2 separate regions of the Homo sapiens genome follow, and region 2 is reported to be linked to region 1. The links are microRNA targets in miRTarBase. Many come from high-throughput screens and were not tested one by one. Region 1 holds a microRNA gene; the other region holds the end of a gene's coding sequence.

Region 1 (4,392 bases):
CTTGATATCACCTAGCTCTGTGATTCTGTAGTAATTCGAGAATATTATTAACTGGCAACTTCTCAGAGTGTCTCCCTGGCCACACAGCCTAAAAGTAACCATGAGCACTCTCCTATCAAACAATTTTCATGTTCAGCATAGTACTTGCCCAAGACATTTTTCTTACTTTTGCATCCCCACTGGACTGTAAGAACCAAGAGAACAAGACTTTGCTATATTTACTGGCACACCCCAGGGCCTTACACAACCTAATAGGCACCAAAAAAAATGTCTGCTGAAGAAATAACACTCATGTAATACTAATAATGCCTCTTTGCCCAACTTTAAAAAGCAAATAGTACATACTAGACATGTTCTGCATTTTCTAAGTTTTAAGAAATCAATTTTCCCACATAAAGTATTATGTGCTTTGTATTAATCTTACAAGCAAAGGTTTTAAAAATACTTAGTAACTGCCACGTTGTTAGTAACTTTAAATACAAGATAATAATATAAAAGCATTTTATCAATTCCAAAACCACCTGCAAATTTTCCGAATGAAATTGCACGGCAATAAAAATCTTTATCAAAATAAAGCTTAATGAAGCAAAGAACAACAAACACAAATCATCCCAGTAACTCAGGACGGTAGTGTCTTTCTGAAATCATGGTGACTTGCTAGCTCTCCTCATTTCTGTGTACAGCCAGGGCACTCGGGTATTGATAGCGAGATACAGATAAATCTCACAGATAACTCCATCATATTTAGAATCACACAGCTCCTAGTGGGTACCTTATTGCCATTAAAACTTTCCCCCAACTCCTCAACACTCTCTTCGGACCATAAAACTAAAATCCCACAGCTTCAAATCTGCTCCTCTGCCTCCCCCTCCCGCAATTAATCCTTTCGAACTTTTCCCAGGGGATTCACATCTGCCATCAAGATGCTTTCATCCTGCTACTATTCCTAAGTGCCTGCTTCCTCCCAGTTACGTAGGTACTCTCGACCCAGAAAAAAGGCACGGGCGAGGCAGGCGTCCCTCCCTCCCACCCCAGCTTCTCCCCGACCCCCAGCAGGAGCGCCCAGCAGGTGCCTCGCTCCGCACCGCGGCTCCCGGGCCGCTGAGAGGCGGGGCACACAAAGGACCCGCATGGACCTCCCCCCCGGCCTCCTAGCGTCTTCCCCCACCCCCCACAGCCCGGCGCCCCGGGTAGCTGGAGAGCGAGGGCGGCGGCCGCAGGCTCGACGGAGACCAGGGACGCTCGCCCCGGTCGCCCCCTCCCTGACCCCAACCCCGCCCACGTCCCACCCACGAAGGCTGCCCAGAACGTAAACCCTCGCCCGGCAAAACCGAAAACGCATCCCCAGCCCGGCTGCCCGGGCCCTGCGCATCCAGCCCGCAGCCTCCCACGCCGCGCCCGCCAGCCGGCGCCCAACGGCCGCCCCCGACCGCCTCCCACGGCACCCGGCTCTTTCCCAGCCCCGGAAGGGTCCCGGTCCCGCCGCCCGCTCCCCCACCTCCCGGGAAGGGCCCGACACCCGCCCGGCCGCCCCGCACTCACAGGCTGCCGGAGCAGGAGGTACACACGAAGGAGCCGACCGTCATGTTAACGTAGGTGGGGCCGCGCTGGTCGCAGTCGAAGCACTTTCGGTTGTGCGGGAGGCCGGTCATGTCCCGCAGCATCTTCAGGTGCTTCTCCTCCTGCTTCCGCTTCGCGCTGGCCGCCATGGCCGCGGCGCCAAGGGAGGAGGCCGGCAGGGCCGGGAGCCGGGCAGCGCTGCGCCGGGGGCCCGCGGTCCCACGGGCCGCCCTGGCCGCGGCCGCCGCCCTCCGTCTGCGCGCGCCGCCCGCGCCGGACCCGGCCGCAGCGGCTTGGCTGTACTGGGCTCGACGCGGCCCGGGCGCTGTGGTACGCGGGCTGACGGGCCACACCAACCGGCACAGCCGGGACAACCGCCGCCGCCGCCGCCACCTTCCCGACTTCTCCTGAGGGGAAAAGACGAGGAAGGGGACGGCAAGAGGAGGCCCGCCCTGGGCGGCCGGTAGCCAAGTGTCCGCTGGCGCCCTCTGCTGGCCAGGAGGAGTCACTGCGGCCTCGCTGAGGCATGGGCCGGGTCTGGAGCCAAGTAGGGTAGACACAATGGTGATAATAATATTAATAATAGACAGTATTTATTGAGCGCTTATATATGCAAAGCGTTTCACATGGGTTACCTTCCCCTTCTGTTTAAAACTCTTCAAGGGCTTTCCACTGCTTTGAGTATAATTCCAAATTCCTCACCGTGCCGTAAAAAGTGCTCCATAGTCTAGCCCAGTCTACCTCATTCTTCGTCGTCCTCACTCAGCCACACTGGATTTTGAGTTTTCTGAACACAGCAAGCTCCTTTCTGACTCCTGCAGGACCTTTGCCCTTGCTCTTCTCTCTTTATCTTTGGGCCAGCTAATTTGGGGGGGCTTGGGGTGTCCTGTGCACTGTAGGATACTGGGCGGCGTTCCTAGCCTATACCCACTAGATACAAGAACAAACCCCCCAATTCCCATTGCTGGCAACCAAAAATCCCCAGACATTGCCAAAAGTGGAGGGAACTTTAGGGCGGTGCAGTCACCTGGCTTGAGAACTGCTGCGTGTGGAAACCCGGATCATCCATAGCTGACATCCTCTAAGTCAGGTGGGGCTCAGATGTCACCTCCCCCGCCAGACTGTCCCAGATCAGCCGAGTTAATGTTGCAGCTCACCTTTCTCGAAGTTGCTCTCCATCAAATTGCTGCGTTGTATTTTCGTCTCAGTTCTAGCTATTTGAAATACTGCATCTTATTTCGTGTTTACCATGGGTGATCTGGACTCTCCCTTTAGGCGCTAAACAGCCTGGCCCCCGTATTTTCTGTGCCACTCCACCCCATTCCCCTCGCAGAGCTGGAGACTAGGTGTTCAATGTTGACGGAATGAATACATGAAATCGTTCATGTAATCTTCACAACAACCCTTCGAGGTGAGCGTTATTGTTATTTACATTTTACAAAACAGGAAGATGAAACCCTGAGGGATTAAGTAAATTTACCCAAGGGTACCTATGGCGAAGCTCAATTCCAACCCAGACAGCCAGACTGCAGGACCCAAATCCCCACTGCAACAATCAACTTCGTCTCTCGTTTTCCAAAGGAGTACAGGGAGACCCAGAGAGCTGAAGTTCTCAAATCACTGGGCTGTTGAATGGATTAGAATCTACGTTTCCTAACAGCCAAGACCAACCTCCACATCTCTCATGAAAGGGATTGGGTGAATCAACAAAGTGAGACTTCATATTAATATAATACTACTAATAATAATTAATGTTTTTAATATTAAAAGAAATGGACAGATAGATTGGCCAATGAATGTTTTTAAACTTTTCTATTATGGAAAATATCAAACTACCATGAGCCCATGGACCACTTTCAGCAATGATTAAGCCCATGGCTAATCTTGCTTTATAAATACCTCAACCCTCCATCCCCTCTCCTATTATTTTAAAGCAAATTCTAGGTTTCGTACCATTCATCTAAATGGTACATAGTTCCATTTGTATCCCTAAAAAATAAAAACTTTATCTCTTTCAAACTTAGCCATGATACCGTTAGCATATCTAAAAAGTTAACAATAGGCTGGGCACGATGGCGCACACCTGTAATCCCAGCACTGTGGGAGGCCAAGGCAGGTGGATTACCTGAGGTCAGGAGTTCAGGACCAGCCTGGCCTACATGGCGAAACCGGGTCTCTACTAAAAATATGAAAATTAGCCAGGCATGGTGGCATGCACTTGTAGTCCCAGCTACTTGGGAAGCTGAGGCAGGAGAATCACTTGAACCTGGGAGGCAGAGGTGGCAGTGAGCCAAGATTGTGCCACTGCACTCCAACCTGGGCAATAGAGCAAGACTCCGCCTCAAAAAAAAAAAAGTTAATAACTCCTAAAGATCATCAAATATCGCACTAGTGTTTAAGTTGGCAATTATCAATATTTTAATGAGATTTTTACAGTTTGTTTGAACCCACTCCTTGCAACTGGGTAATATGTCTCATAAGGTTTCTTTGGGTCTCTCCACCATCTCTTTTTTTTTAATTATAATTCATTTGTTTTAGTAATTGGGCACTTTATTCTGTAGAGTTTCTCATAATCTGTATCATTTAACATGTCCCTCTGTTCTATTTCCTAAAAATTGGTAGTTAGATCTAGTTCACTAGTATCCAGTTCAGTATTTTTGCGGGGCAGGCATTCATTTCATTGTGTTCTTCCATCAAGAGGGACATAATTGAGGAGAGGATATCTTTTTCATGATGTTGGTAACCATTGATGATTAATGTCTAGATTCATTAATTCATTAATGATTAGAAAATACTGATATTCTAATTCTGCCATTCTGGCTGGGTGCGGTG
Region 2 (4,392 bases), not on the chromosome of region 1:
GGGACCAATATGACCACCAACATTGTTATACAATATAGTTAAATGAGCTGGTGAGTTAAATAAGTACTAATCCTCTGATACATCCCCTACCATGCTAGGCACCCAGCAAACAGAGCAGAAAGGACAGACATGGCACCTGAGTCTAGTGAAGAAAACAGACAGTGACAGGCATATGATAAGCACTTTGATAAATGAGGTACATGGGGCACATGGGGAGTTCACCTAACCAGGTGAGACTAGACCAGAAAGCCTTCTCAGATGAAAAGATGTCTAAGCCAAGACCTGAATGATGAGTAGGAATTAGCCATTCCACAAGAGGGGAAGAGGGGCGTAGAGTAGCAAGAGTTGGAGCTGGATGGACAAATGTGGGCCAGATTAGGAAGGACCTTCTAAACCATGTTGAAGAGCCTGAGCTTTATCCAGAAGCATGTGAGGTCCTCAGGAGGTTTTAAACAGGGGAGAAAACAGACTATCTACTACAGTTTCACAGAATTTATTCTTTGAAATTCCTACCACTGAGATGGGATATATGCTCCCTCCATTTGAATCTGGGGGGGCTTGGGACTTTAGTGGAAGTGATGTTATGAGACTTCTGAGACTAGGTCATAAAATGTAACTGCTTCTGCCTGGTCCTCTTGGGACAGTCACTCCTAGTACCTAGCCACCATGCTGTGGGGAAGCTATGTGTAGACATGTTCCAGCCCCAGCACTAGCTGAGGTCCTAGCATCAACTGCCAGAAATACTAAGGAAGCCTTTGAGATTATGCCAGTCGCGGCCACAATCTGATGATGACTATAACTGCATGAGAACCCGAATAAGAACTGTCTGGCTGAGCCCAGTCAGTACTTAGGATAATGAGAAATAACACAATGACTGGTGTTGTTTAAAGTCACTGAGTTTTGGAGTGTTTTCCACACAGCAATCAATAACCAGAACTATCCCTGATATCACCTAATTAAGAAGATATCTTTTTGTCTCCTTCTAGTAACTGTGCTGAACTCATCATACTGATTTCTGGGACTCTGGAGCAACAGATATCTACAGTAAGTAAAAACAATCTACAAAAGCACATAACAGAGTTAAGGAATAAGATGTTCTGTCCAATCAAATATTTTCATTAACAGGATAAGTAGGCCAGGTGCGGTGGCTCATGCCTGTAATCCCAGCACTTTGGGAGGCCAAGGCAGGCAGATCACTTGAGGATAAGAGTTAGAGACCAGCCTGGCCAACATGGTGAAACCCCATCTCTACTAAAAAAATACAAAAAATAAGCCAGTGTGGTGGCACACAACTGTATTCCCAGCTACTTGGGAGGCTGGGGCATGAGAATTGCTTGAACCCAGGAGGCAGAAGTTGCAGTGAGCTGAGATCACACCACTGCACTCCAGCCTGGGCGACAGAGTGAAATTGTGTCTCAAAAAAAAAAAAACCCCAAAGCAGAAAAAAACAAGTAAATGATGTAGGCAAACTACTGCTTATAAAGAAACATCATTTTTTCAAAGGAATTACTGAGTTTTAAAGAATGAAATGCCTATCATAACCTATACTGAACACTGTTTTATTGGACTTTTAAGACTTTAAAATCATCTATTACTTTGGGGTGAACATTATGCATATAGCTACCTCTGTACTGAGGTTTCTGGGAACAGGTGGAATGGACCAGTTTTTCCAGTCGGCTGGGCAGCAGGGATTGGGAAGCTTGTTGCTATTTACTGCTCACAAAATTTGGTTATTTCGCTAATGAATGGTTGTTAGCTAACAACCAAGGCCACACTCACCCACAGCACTGGAGCCATTTGAACTGTGAGAGTTGGAGAAGATGAAAAGTAAGCTGGGGGGACAGGAAGCATGCCCTATTATTCCCTAAGACTGAAAGTGGAGAAATCCAAGCACTTTTTTTTTTTTTTTTGCATGTGCAAAACACCAGACACATACAGAAACAATTAGGATTCTATGAGGGCAGAGAATTTGTTTCTCTAAATGGGGCTGTTCAATGTTTCACAGAGCACAAGGACAAGAAATTCAATATTTTTGAGCAGAAGGAAGAACTCATTTGTTTTTATAATTCCTTAACTAGTTTCAAACATATTGCATGTACTATGTGCCAGCCACTATCTGCTTGCTTTATATTCCCTATCTCATTTCATCCTCACACCAAGCCTAAGAGGTCGGTACCATTATCCCCATTTACCAAATGAGGAAACTGAGGATGCCCAGGGCCACACAGTAATGGGGGCCCTTAGTATTCTGTTTCTTAAGAGCTGCTCCTTTTTCCCCTCTGAAAAGAGATAATGTGGTACAGTGGGAAGGATACTAGACTAGGAATCTGGATTCTAATCTCAGCTCTACCACAAATCAATTATACCAATGTGCGACTCTCATATGCGGATCCTGTCCTCAGGTGGGATTGTGATCTCAGACCTGGATTCAGCAAACACCTGAAGCTGTGACTCTCTTACTGGGACACAGTCTACAGTTGAGATTGGGCCTCTCTTGCATGGATCGTTTCCTTAACCTGAAAGATGAAGGAATTAATTAGGAGACTCAGAAGACTTCTCCTAGTCTACAATTTCTGACTCTATAATCCTTGCCTTAGAACAACAACCAAGTGAACAGTCTTAGTTTTGGAGGTGGCAATGAAGAGTCTGCAGCAATCTTGGCAGACAGCTCCTGAGGTCTGAGCAACCCTCTGGGCTTTCTGAAACAAAAGGAGCAAGTGAGGTGGGGTCACTGTGTATCTTCTGCTCACTGGTGACCAGACACGGTAAAATTCAACACATACTATATTTGAGACCATAAGTATGAAGCAGCTTTGAACTGCTCTCATGGCACATTTTTTTTTAATATGAGGCATTCAAGAGAGAAAAATCATTAACAAATAAGATAAACTATAGGACTAAATATTTATTATCCACATAGAAACCAAAGCATTATGTGGTTTTTAGTGGCACTTATTTTGAAAAGCACATGGCTTACCCATGAACAAAGCAGTAGTCATTTAAATTTGGCTTACTCAGCAGTCCTAAAGGCTAAATTCTGGTTTTGTTTGTGCTGCTGAGAAAACAAAACAACCACAATCCCAGCAAGTTTCCTTATGAACCTTATTTCTCTTATTTTTGAGAAAATATGATCCTACTAAACCTTGAATGAAGATTTCAAATCTATATGCAAAGACACATAGGCATTATTGTTTTGCAGATGGAAAAATAAGGGCTCAAGTCATAGACATATATGATGGCAGAGCAATGAGAAAATCCTGGGCTGTTTTCTAACATGGTAAAATAGGGTTTCATACCTCCTGAATTCAGCAAGGATGTAATTTGCAAGTAACTACTCCTTTGAAAATCAGAGTTATCCACACTTGTAGTGAAATTCATTCCTGATGGTGCTTACTGGGTTCCACTCTGGTGTCGGAAGCTGAACCGGAGACTGACCAGGTTCCTTCAAGGATCCTCAGCCATGCAAAAGGGAAGCGCCTTTCTGAGGGAGCCAAGCTTGCATCTAGACCTTCACAGTGGTGCAACATAACTTCTCAGAGATCGGCATGGTACCATTCAGTGAATTTGGGAATTTCAGGAGAAGACCAAGTGTCAGCACACTGTCTGCTGAAGTGCGATACCTGGCTTCTTAGGAAAGGTAATAACTCACTAGAAGCAGGCCCCTCAGATCCATAGGTGGACTGAAACCAGGGTTACTCAGCCAACAGGGACTGGCTGAGTGGCTGGAAGGTGCGACGGCTGACCATCCTCTTGTTTAATAGCAACGTGTGAGATTTCCTGTCCCTGGGGGTGTGGCAGAGCACAGCATCCAAAGAATCAGTGGTGACCTGGCCAGTGATGTGCAGTGTCCCATAGATCTCATCAAATTTGGCCACAAGGGCAGGCACATCCTTCACTTTTTCCCTCACTTTGGCCAGCTGGAAAAAAGCAAGAACACATCATTACATCTCTGCAAGATTTCTTCCTTATTCTTACTATAACCCTAAGAAAAAGAAATGGACATGAACAAAAATGTATGGTAGGCCAGGCGAGGTGGCCCATGCTTTAATCTAAGCAATTTTGGACGCTGAGACAGGAGGACTGCTTGAGCACAGGATTTCTAGGCCAGCCTAGGCAACACAGTGAGACTTTGTCTGTAAAAAAATTTTTTTAAAAATTAGTTGGTGTAGTGGGAGGATCACTTAAGCCCAGGAGACAGAGGCTGCAGTGAGCTGTGATCGTGCCACTGTACTCCAGCCTTGGCGACAGAGTGAGTCTTAAAAAAAAAAAAAAGTATGGTATACACCTAAAATCGTGAAAACCAGGGTACTGGGGCACACAGACAGCAGTATTACTATGAGGGATTCCAAAAGCTACACACAAAATTCAAAATTAGTACTTGAAAATCATACC

The links. The annotated mature microRNA hsa-miR-5703 reads AGGAGAAGUCGGGAAGGU and lies in region 1 at 1,952-1,969, opposite strand. An mRNA with a match to its seed (bases 2 to 7 or 8) in the 3' UTR can be bound and repressed. Matches are read on the target gene's strand: a 7mer-m8 pairs with bases 2 to 8, a 7mer-A1 pairs with bases 2 to 7 and ends in A, and an 8mer does both.
Region 2: the mRNA of PTCD2 is a reported target of hsa-miR-5703. Seed matches in the 3' UTR shown: 7mer-m8 at 3,577-3,583, 7mer-A1 at 1,878-1,884 and 8mer at 1,813-1,820.

The regions. Positions count from the first base shown.
Region 1 is chr2:227,469,739-227,474,130 of GRCh38, reverse strand. It overlaps MIR5703 (microRNA 5703), which reads right to left and starts at 1,999; the gene lies at 1,944-1,999. AGFG1 (ArfGAP with FG repeats 1) reads right to left here and starts at 1,975. Exons shown (of 13, transcript NM_004504.5): 1 at 1,543-1,975. The coding sequence starts at 1,709. It overlaps LOC124907994 (a long non-coding RNA gene), which reads left to right and starts at 2,032. Exons shown (of 2, transcript XR_007088114.1): 1 at 2,032-2,971; 2 at 3,142-3,343. RefSeq lists a silencer at 1,267-1,986 and an enhancer at 2,099-3,062.
Region 2 is chr5:72,357,728-72,362,119 of GRCh38, reverse strand. It overlaps PTCD2 (pentatricopeptide repeat domain 2), which reads right to left. Exons shown (of 10, transcript NM_024754.5): 10 at 1-3,917. The coding sequence ends at 3,693. Among named protein-coding and RNA genes, the nearest start is that of PTCD2, 40 kb to the right of the region's middle.